2 separate regions of the Homo sapiens genome follow, and region 2 is linked to region 1. The links come from fine-mapping of genetic effects on gene expression. A gene starts in region 1. The other region holds a variant in brackets. All regions are shown on one strand. Distances are between the middles of the regions. Region 1 holds the start of BBS4 (Bardet-Biedl syndrome 4). Region 2 overlaps BBS4 (Bardet-Biedl syndrome 4).

Region 1 (5,374 bases):
GGAAAATTTTGTTCTGGATGTTGTATATTCTCTGTAGAGGAGTGTTGGGGATTCCCCACATCAGCAGAACTAAAGGGTAACTGAAGAGAACAGGGAGTGACATGTCAGATTGAGAATCAGTCTTTTGAAAGTGGCAAAAAGAATATGTGTTAAAAGAAAAAATAGGGTAGAAGATAAAAAGAATAGGGCAGAAGATATTAGCTTCAATTCCTCCTTTTTTTTTTTTTTTTTTGATCCTTTGGAATGATTTCTTCCTAGACTGCCAGTGTTGCGTAGTAACCCCGCCCATGAAGAGGACTGGAATACTGAAAAACTGCATGAAACTAAGCGCTGTGGGTTGGGCGGGGTGGCTCACGCCTGTAATTCCACACTTTGGGAGGCCAAGTTGGCTGGATTGCTTGAGCTCAGGAGCTTGAGACCAGCCTAGGTAACATGATGAAACCCCATCTTTACAAAAGATACAAAAATTAGCTGGGTGTGGTGGCATGAAGCTGTAGTCCCAGCTACTCAGGAGGCTGAGGTGGGAGGATCACTTGAGCCTGGGAGGTAGAGGCTGCAGTGAGCCGTGATTGTCCCACTGCACTTCCGCCTGGGCAACAGAGCGAGATCCTGTCCCAAAAACAAAAAAACTAAGCACTGTGGATTAGAAATTAATAATTTTTCATCTTTATATCTTTTTTTTTTTTTTTGAGACAGTCTTGCTCTGTCTCCCAGGCTGGAGTGCAGTGGCACGATCTCGGCTCACTTAGGCAAGGTGTTTAATTAATCTCTGAAAAGTGGAGAATTTAGCACCAGGCATGGTGACTGGTGCCTGTAATCCTAGCTACTTGAGAGGATGAGGTGGAAGTGTTAAAGGTGGAGGGTGTCCAGGTTCTTGGTGTCTTGAAAAAAGAATTGGACAAAATGCACAAACAAAGCAAGGAAGGGACAAGGAATTTACTGAACATGAAAGTACACTCCAGTGTGGGAGCGGGCCTGAGCTTAGAAGTTCAGTGGCTCCGTTACAGAATTTTGGGGAGTTTAAATAACCCCAGAGGATTCCATGGTTACTTCGGGTATGCCTTATGTAAATAGAGAAGATGAAGTAAAGTTACAAAGACATTTATGGCCTATGCCCTATGGACAGAATATTACCTGTTATAGCTGAAGTGTGAATTGGCCTTATGTTCCCTACCTCCAGACCCTATTTTCCTGCCTCAGGAGGATTACTTGAGCCTAGGAGTTCAAGTCCAGTCTGGACATCAATAGTGAGACCCCTGCCTCTGAAAAAAAATTTTTTTGAGACAGAGTTTTGCTCTTGTTGCCCAGGCTGGAGTGCAATGGGATGATCTCAGCTCACTGTAACTTCCACCTCCTGGATTCAAGCAATTCTCCTGCCTCAGCTTCCCTAGTAGCTGGGATTACAGGAGCCGGCCACCACGCCCGGATAATTTTTTGTATTTTTAGTAGAGACAGGGTTACACCATGTTGGCCAGGCTGGTCTTGAACTCCTGACCTCAGGTGATCTGCCCACCTCAGCCTCACAAAGTCCTGGGATTACAGGCGTGAGCCACCGAGCCCAGCAAATTTTTGTTTTTTAGACGGAGTCTCCCTCTATCGCCCAGGCTGGAGCACAGAAATGCGATCTCGGCTCACTGCAACCTCTGCCGCTTGGGTTCAAGTGATTCTCCTGACTCAGCCTCCCGAGTAGCTGCGATTACAGGCGGGCACCACCATGCCCGACTAATTTTTTGTATTTTTAGTAGAGACGGGGTTTCACCATGCTGGCCAAGCTGGAAAATTTTATTTTTAATAAATGAAAGGCAGAGTATTTATCTGAAAAAAGTGGGAGACCAACAGTCTCATGGGATTGTTATAAAGATTAAAAGAGAGAGTGTTACTGAAATACTTAGAAGAGCTGTTATTCTATTGCTGTCCTTTCCCCTTGTATTTGGATAGATTACCGTACTTGTTTCTTCTATGTAACTCTAATTGTCAGTGGGGTTCTCCCTCTCTTAGAGGCCTGGAGAAACTTGTCTTAAATGCTTTCCCAGTTAATGAATTGGGAGAGGCAGATTTTATGTCTAAATTACAAGGGCGAGACTTAAAAGTATGAATTGGGGCTAATGTCAGTGCTCAGGTGCAGGGATCCTCCGTTTTGTTCATCACACAGCTCCCGGCACTTTAATAAATGAGGCTCAAAGAAACGACGGGCTTAGGTCATGCAGTAGTCAAATTCAGAACTCATGTTTGATTCCAAAGCCCACACGTTTTCCTAGTTTAGAAACACTAAACATTTAATTCACCGCACCGGGGGCCAGACAGGTAATGGAGAACGCCTTAAGTATGTTAGGAAGGGAAGTTATCTACAGTCGCAGCCGCTATTCAGATCTATTTCACTGCCTTGCAGAAAACGCCGACTGTCGTCTCTTTATCCCATGGCCGATTTCTTGTGAAATCTCCTAACTTTTAAATATTTCCAATCAAAAGACTGCCGTTCAAATGCAGCCCACCAGGAGCATGTTTGCAAACTCTGGAGTAAACAAGAGTGGGAAGCTGATAAGGTGAGTACCTCAGTTCGATAGTGACAGCCAAGAAACGGGGAGTTTTGTACCTAAGGCGAGAAAGAAATTCTCCGCCGAAATCTCCCGGAAGAAGGACTGAATTAAATGCAGATTAGAGTCAGGGCAGGGTAAGGTGGCGGGAGAACTAGGCTGCCATCCCAGGTGGCTGGCCTACCAGCCAGCGCGGCCGGAGGTACAGACCATGTACAGACCACGGCGAGGGGTGTTAGGGGCTTCTCGGGATAAAGGCAGCGAGTGGCTGCGCATTCCCTCCCCGACTCTTTCAGAGGTAAGCCTTCTGTGGAGCAGACCCTAATCCTCCCCCTGATTCCTTAGGTCACTCGGCGATTTACTTCCTTCCCCCGCTTCCTCACAGTCCTCCACAGCCCTACGACTTCCGCTTGCCTCGTCGTCTGGGAAACCGCCGACTTCCGGCCGCGCAGCGGTGGGCTGAGCTAAAATGGCTGAGGAGAGAGTCGCGACGGTGAGCGCCGAGATTCTCTTTAGTTGCCCGGCCGCAGGGCAAGGCAAGCTGGCGGGTGGCTTTTGTCCCATGCAGCGGTTCCTGGAGAGAGGCGGAGCTGGGTGCCGAGCGTCTCAGGGTGGGCGGGGCGACACGGTCCCCTTTTTACTGTCCCGGGAACTGGTCGCCTGGGGCAAGTCTGGATACTTAGCAGCACAGGTCCTGTTCTAGGACTGTAGTCCCTCTTGGGGTGCGCTGGACGGAGAAGGGAGACTTTTCACCAGTAATGGCTCTTACCGTAGTGCCATCTTTTTCTGTCTCGGGGGTTTGGAAGGTAATGACTAGCACTTGTGTAGACAGTTCCTGTTAATCCCGTGAATTGGGAATTTAACATGCCTGGAAGCTTGCAGCGTCACTGCCTTCTGCCAGTGGAGCGGGACTGTGTTTTTTCTGTGGTGATTAAGTTTAGGAAAGTACGGTTTTGGAATTCATCTGAAGGCTGAGTTGGGCGTTCACTCCACAGAACTGCTAATATAGAGGAACCCGATGAATTCAGGATGACCTAGTCGCTATTTTTTGAGGCATATATCTATAATTGGATCTAATTTCGGTAAAGTGCCAAGTGTGAAGCTTTGTTTACCTTGCTTTAGTGTTGGGTTTGAAAGCCTGTTCTGTCCATTTGTTAGAATGATTTTAGGTATTCGGAATTTATTGTCTTTCGAAAAACGCCCTGGAAAACAGTACAAATAGCAGCCTTTGGCTGTTTTACAACTTAGTTTTGGCTAAGCAGCAAGGTTAGTGTTATTGTTAGAGGGCCTTTTGTTTGTTTTCTACTCTCATTTGCAGAGTAGTCATATTATTCTAGTCTAATTAGAAAACTCTGAAGACAGAAACTTTTTTTTTTGAGACGGAGTGTCGCTGTTGTCGGCCCGGGCTGGAGTGCAATGGCGCGATCTCGGCTCACTGCAACCTCCGCCTCCCAGGTTCCAGCAATTCTCCTGCCTCAGCCTCCGGATTAGCTGAGAATACAGGCGCCTGCCACCACGCCCGGCCGAAACATTTTTATTAAGCTAAGAAATTTAAAATAGCTAGGCCGGACGCGGTGCATCACGCCTGTAATCCCAGCACTTTGGGAGGCCGAGACGGGTGGATCACTTGAGGTCATGAGTTTGAGACCATCCTGGCCAACATGGTGAAACCCCGTCTCTACTAAAAATACAAAAATTAGCGGGGCATCGTGGCGCTCGCCTGTAATCCCAGGTACCTGGAAGGCTGAGGCAGGAGAATCGCTTGAACCCCGGAGGCGGAGGTTGCAGTGAGCCGAGATCATGCCATTGCACTCCAGCATGAGCGACAGAGACAGACTCCTTCTCAAAAAAAAAGAAAGAAAAAACAGATTTTAAAATAATTAAATAGGCCAGGCTCAGTGGCTCACGCCTGTAATCCTAGCACCTTGGGAGGCTGAGGTGGGTGGATCGCCTGAGGTCAGGAGTTCGAGACCAGCCTGGCCAACGTAGTGAAACCCTGTCCCTACTAAAAAAATACAAAAAATTAGCTGGACGTGGTGGCGGGCGCTGGTAATCCCAGCTACTAGGGAGGCTGAGGCAGGAGAATCGCTTAGAACCCAGGAGGCAGAGGTTGCAGTGAGCCGAGATCGTGCCATTTCACTGCAGCCTGGGCATCCAGAGCAAAACTCCGTCTCAGAAAAAAAAAAAAAGTAAATAGCATGGTTAATGTTACTGGGTTTTAAATATTAAAAACATAGGAAAGAAAATACTTCCACTCCAGCCTGGGTGACAGAGCAAGACTCCGTCTCAAAAAAAAAAAAAAAAAAAAAAAGAAAATACTTCTAAGTAATCTTAAAGTGTAAAAGATAATGGGTAACATAACATTGCTACAAATATAGCTTATCCTCTAGTGCTCATCACAAGTGTTTGTGTAATAGAATATGAACTTGAGTCTGTGACGGCAGAATTGTCATGTACATTTGAATGTCTAATACTGTTTTAAAGAGAATAGCTTTTGTTTCGATATGACTTAGCAATTAAGCCTGAAGTTAACTGTTTTCATTGTTGTCAAATTTATTGCTAGTAGTGTTACGTTTATAGTAATTTTCATCTTTTCAAGTTACCAATGCATGGAAATGTGAATTTCTGTCCTTTTAGGAAGTGGTATTTTATCTTTTTTTTTTTTTTTTTTTTGAGACGGAGTCTCACTTTGTCGCCCTGTCTGGAGTGCAGTGGCGTGATCTCAGCTCAGTGGAACCTCTGCCTCCCGGGTTCAAGTGATTTTTCTGCCTCAGCCTCCCGAGTAGCTGGGGTTACAGGCCCTCACCACCATGCCTGGCTTATTTTTGTGGAGATGGGGT
Region 2 (5,374 bases), 38 kb after region 1:
CCAATACTCTCTGTCTTAAGTTAGGTAATCTACTCAACCTCTCTGAGCTTCAATTTCCTTATCTGTAAAATTGGAAAGATTATAACTATGTTGCAGGTTTGCTGAAAATTAAAGTAACATATATGAAAACATCTGGCATAAAGCCTGATGTTAGTAGGTGCTCAACCAATGGTTGCTGTTTTGTTGTTTTTACTATTTTTGGAGACTTGGAAAACATTAAATCAGTTGTTATCTCTGAGCCTGGGGGTCCATGTTTCCTCAGACAGGGACACATCTCCACTACTAATAGGGTAGTTCTTACTATGTTTCCCAAGAGCATTTTCCTTACCCTTGCTTTCTCCTTTTCCAAAGCTACCTTAAATAAAGGGAGGTTTATTATAAAGGAATTTGAGAGTCCATAAAACAGTATCAAGAGATGCAGGTTGGTCTTTTAGTGAAGCAGAACTGGAACGCTTCAGCATCCAAGGTAGCTACTCTGCCTTTTCTGCTTCATCTTTTCTTTCTGTAGATCAAAGGTTGGCAAACTTTTTTTGTAAAGGGCCAGTTAATAAATATTTTAATTTGTATAGCTTCATACAGACTCTGTTGCAACGACTTAACTCTGCAGTTCTAATGCAAAAGAGCCATACAAAAACAATAGTTGTGTCTGTGTTCCAATGAATCTGTACTTATAAAAAAGGGCAGGGAATGGATTTGGCCCATGGACCATAGTTTTCCCATGTCAGCTCTAGACTTCTGCAGATGGCTCCAATTACATGTATTCCATCACAGCAGACTCCAGGTGGCGCTGTCAGTCCTCAAGTTCACATCACCTAGTAAATTTAGTACTTGTAACTAACTAGCTCTCTTCCAATTCCAGATTCCTAGGGAAAGGACTTCAGTTGTGTCAGGTGTCACTATCCAACTGTGTTGCCTTAAGGGCGGAAATGTGTGGCTAGCAGCCCTCTCAGCAGGGGCTGTGGGTAGTCTCTCCTGAGAAGAAGGAGCAAAGGGTATGGGTGATGGGCAACTCTTAAAGAAAAAAGGTATGGGGATGGGCTGGGTATGTGCCCCAGGGTTCCCCATAGATCCAGGAAGATCACCTGTTTATTCTGCTTTTATTTCTTATAATCTGTATTTTTTTATGTTGAGGAACTTATTTTTAACAATTAATTTGAGTATGAACTCTAATAAAAAGCTGACTGTAATGCATAGTTTAAAGTTTAAACCTTGCCGAGCAATAACAATCTCTAGATGTCTGTTGTTTCACTCTAATACTTACTGTGGAATTACACCTGAGTTGTTTTCCTTCTTTTTTATGAGCCTAGGAGATCAGCCATAACCTAGGAGTTTGCTACATATACCTGAAGCAGTTCAACAAGGTAATTTATAGAAGTGGTGATAGATTTCACTGAGGGTGCACTTGTTGCAGAAGTTGTTACATTGCTCATTTGGTATTATCCCTAGTGCTTGCAGAGGTTTTTGGAACTGAAAATTGAAAGTACCTTTATACATTTTTTTCTGTTTTAATTCTCACTTGTCATTATTCATCTGTTGTTTTCTGCTTGTAATAAGAACATGGAAAGTTCTAGAAATATGAGGGAATGGCAGTTTTTCTCCTTTCTTCTTTTTCTCTACCTCCAGTTAAATTTCCCAGTTTAGAAACAGATGCTTAATAAAACATACATATCAAAAAGTGGACCCTTAAGTCTTAAAGGTGTGATCATGACCATGTGAGCTATCTCCATGCCCTGACGGCAACTTAGTTTTTAGGGTCATTGAAAATAAATTTTAAATTTTAAGTGGATCTGATTTCTGAGTTTTCAGTTTTAATTTTATAGTTATTTTCCATGATGAGAAATTATATTTCACTGTGATTAAGCTATAGACTCCTATATCAGAGAAGACAAGTTGAGCTTACCTCAAATTTGGTACTCAGGTAAGAAAAAGTATATATCATAATTGAGGAGTAGACAAAATTACTGAGAGCTCTAAAACTTAGTGATGAGAGCGTTGGGTAGTTTCCTTCATAGAGCTCACAGTTAGTGATTGTGAAGTTTTATTCTCCTTTCTCCGATGCCACCAGGACTGAGAATCTGAATTGGTTAGTACCCATTTGACAATGTTTAGTTTGTGTCAATTTGCAGACTGGTGTAACTAGTATCCCACACTGGTGTGAAAAAAAATATGCACATTAGCAGTTGGGGTGTAAAAGTAACTTTTCTCCTGAGATAACAATATATATACATAAAATACATTTAGTGGGCCCCTTAGGTTTTGTAGATGGATCTATAGTTTTATATACTTGGTTAGGAGATTTTTCTCTTCAGAGACAATTTCAAACAGGCACATTTCTATTCACAGGATTATTCTGAGTCAGGGGAAAAGAAGGATTTGTCTTTGGTTGGATCTGTGCTGAGAAGAAATATATTTAGATTTTACTGTACAGCTAACAGGCTAGGCAAATACAATACCTGGCATTTATATAAATGCTTGTTGAATCTGTGAATGACTAAACAAAGCCCTTTTGTTTACTAGGAGAAGGTAAGCTCCTCCAGAGCAAGGAGTTGGTTTTATAAACTCAAATATATTTAGCATCTAGAACAGCAAGCAGTTGGGTGAATAAATGAGAACAATCTATTTATTCATTTATCATCACATTGATGGGGAAACCTGGCCCACCATAGGGAAGGTTGTGCACTTGGTCAGTGTTACAGCTGGGATTTAGTTTAGTGTAGTACTCTACACTGTACTATGATGGCCCTTTTGACTTATGAAGTATGAGTCATAGGTGTGAATATCAGGCAGAAAACATTCAGAAAGATTAATCGTCTTGTATAAATTCTTCCAAGTGGCTCCAGAAGCAGATATCCCATGTTGCCAGCTGTCTTTTCAACAAGGACAG[T/A]TTTGGTATGTTTTGGTCTTTGGGTAGTGGGGGCTGTTTGCTGAAATGTGATGTTCCTATGTCAATACAGCAGAAAGTGTCTTTACATTAGCCATATAAAGGTATAGTTCGTTCAGTGGTAGTGATTTGGTTTTCTTTATTTTGTTAAACTTGTCAGGCACAAGACCAGTTGCACAATGCCCTGAATCTTAATAGGCACGATCTGACTTATATAATGCTGGGGAAGATCCACTTGCTGGAGGGAGACTTGGACAAGGCCATTGAAGTCTACAAGAAAGCAGTGGAGTAAGTGTATCTGTTTCCTTTAAAACAGTGAGAAACTAAAAAAATTGAGTGGATATGTGAACTCCCAAGCCTAAAAGAGTGAATATGTTTGATTAATTACTTACTGTATGAGTTAAAGGTTAAGCTGAAGTTTAAGAGCTCCCAGTAGCTTCAATAAGGTAGACTGTGTTTCTTTCTTACCTATAAGGATGACTGCTGCTTTAGGTTAGCTGGGCAGCTCTATTCTACAAGGTCAGCCAGGGATCCAGGTTTCTTCCTTATTAACTCACCATTCCTTAGGCTGTTGTCTTTACCTGCATGGTTGATGCTGAATGTAACATCCACATCCAGGCTGTGGTGGAAGGAGATGGTTTGGGAAGCTAAGCATGGAATAAGCATCTGGCTATATATATATATATATATAGAGAGAGAGAGAGAGAGAGAGAGAGACATGATCTTACTCCATCACTCAGGCTGGAGTGCAGTGGAGAACACAGCTCACTGCAGCCTCAACCTCTTGGGCTAAAGCAATCTTCCTACCTCAGCCTCCCAAGTAGTTGGGACTACAGGCATGTGCCACCATGCCCAGCTAATTTAAAAAAAAAAACTGTTTTTGTGTTGACAGGGTCTTGCTGTGTTGCCCAGGCTGGTCTTAAACTTCTGGGCTCAAGCGATCCTCCTGCCTCAGCCTTCCAAAGTGCTGGAATTACAGGTGTGAGCCACTGCACCTGGCCTTGGTAATAAGTTTTAAATGACCCAGAAATTGCACACATCGTTCCTGCTTACATTCCATGGTTCAAAACTACATGATAGTTACAAGGGAAGTGGGCAGACATGCACTCAAGAAGAAGGAAATAACAGATTTAAGAGTTGGCCGACAGTCTGCCATTTTGGTATCATATGTTAATAACAGATCTTCTGTTTTCAGAGATATTATTAGGGACAGAAATCTCCTGATTCAGTAAAAAACAAAACAAAACAAAACAAAACATTTGGCCTTATTAGCATGAGACCAGTATCTTTTTTCCCCCTTCCCCATTTTCCCTTCCCCTTCCCCGTTTTCCCCTTCCCTTTCCCCGTTTTCCCTTCCCCCTTTTCTCTTCCCCCTTTCCCTTTCCCCCTTCCCCCTTCCCCCTTCCTCTTCCCCTTCCTCCTTCCCTCTTCCCCCATCCCCCTTCCCCCATCCCCCTTTCCCCATCCCCCTTTCCCCATCCCCCTTTCCCCATCCCCCTTTCCCCATCCCCCTTTCCCCATCCCCCTTTCCCCATCCCCCTTTCCCCATCCCCCTTCCCCCTTTCCCCTTCCCCCTTTCCCCTTCCTCCTTTCCCTTCCCCCTTTCCCCTTTTCCCATCTCCCTTCCCCTTTCCCCTCCCTCTCTCCCTTCCTTCCTTTTTCTCTCTTTTCTTTCCATCCTTTCCCTCCCTCCCATTCCCATCTTTCTTTGTTTCTTTCTTTTCTTCCTTTCTTCCTTCCTTTCTTTCCTTCCTTTCATTTATTTCAACAGTCTCGCTCTGTCGCCCAGGGGTGAGTGCAGTGGCGCGATCTCGCCTCACTGCAACCTCTGCCTCCTGGGTTCAAGCGATTCTCATGCCTCAGCCTCCTGAGTAGCTGGGACTGCACGAGCACGCCACCACCCCTGGCTAATGTTTGTATTTTTAGCAGAGACAGGGTTTCACCATGTTGGTCAGGCTGGTCTCGAATTCCTGGCCTCAAGTGATCTGCTTGCCTTGGTCTCCCATAGTGCTGGGATTGCAGGCGTGAACCACTGCGCCCAGCCTTGTGTTGTTACTTTTAAATGGGATAGCTGTAGCAAAATGCCTTGTCTCATTTGTTTGGTCCCTTAATAGAATGTCTGGTCTGTGGTTCAAGGCTTATTATTCCTAATAATTAGATTCTGAACTAAACTTAGATTTCTATTAATTTGTTAATCATCTTTGTCTTCTACCATGGTAGTAAATTTTCTGGTTATATCAGTCACAGCACTGCTTTCTGAATTTTCTTCAACCATATTTTGTGTCTAAAACAGAAAAATCCCTTGGTTTGTTAAGCTACAGAACAGACTTTTGTCATCAAGAGGCTGTATATTTGGGCAAGTAGTAAGGAGCCATGTAACATGTTCAGTGCCTCTGTGGTGCTAGGTAGTAGCCCTGATCCCTGACCCCTGCCTTCTAGAGGTTAGCTCTTTGAGAATAGCATACATAAATCCCAAGGGGAACATTCTTCCAG

Evidence for each region. PIP is the estimated chance that this variant, and not a neighbour inherited with it, causes the effect.
Region 2: its variant is fine-mapped to the expression of BBS4 in whole blood (TOPMed, PIP above 0.99).

Annotation. Positions count from the first base shown.
Region 1 is chr15:72,683,225-72,688,598 of GRCh38, forward strand. BBS4 (Bardet-Biedl syndrome 4) reads left to right here and starts at 2,983. Exons shown (of 16, transcript NM_033028.5): 1 at 2,983-3,027. The coding sequence starts at 3,004. HIGD2B (HIG1 hypoxia inducible domain family member 2B) reads right to left here and starts at 2,958. Exons shown (of 3, transcript NM_001350932.3): 1 at 2,594-2,958.
Region 2 is chr15:72,721,487-72,726,860 of GRCh38, forward strand. It overlaps BBS4 (Bardet-Biedl syndrome 4), which reads left to right. Exons shown (of 16, transcript NM_033028.5): 7 at 1,308-1,361; 8 at 3,042-3,169. Among named protein-coding and RNA genes, the nearest start is that of BBS4, 38 kb to the left of the region's middle. The variant T/A (reference allele first, on the strand shown) is at 2,885.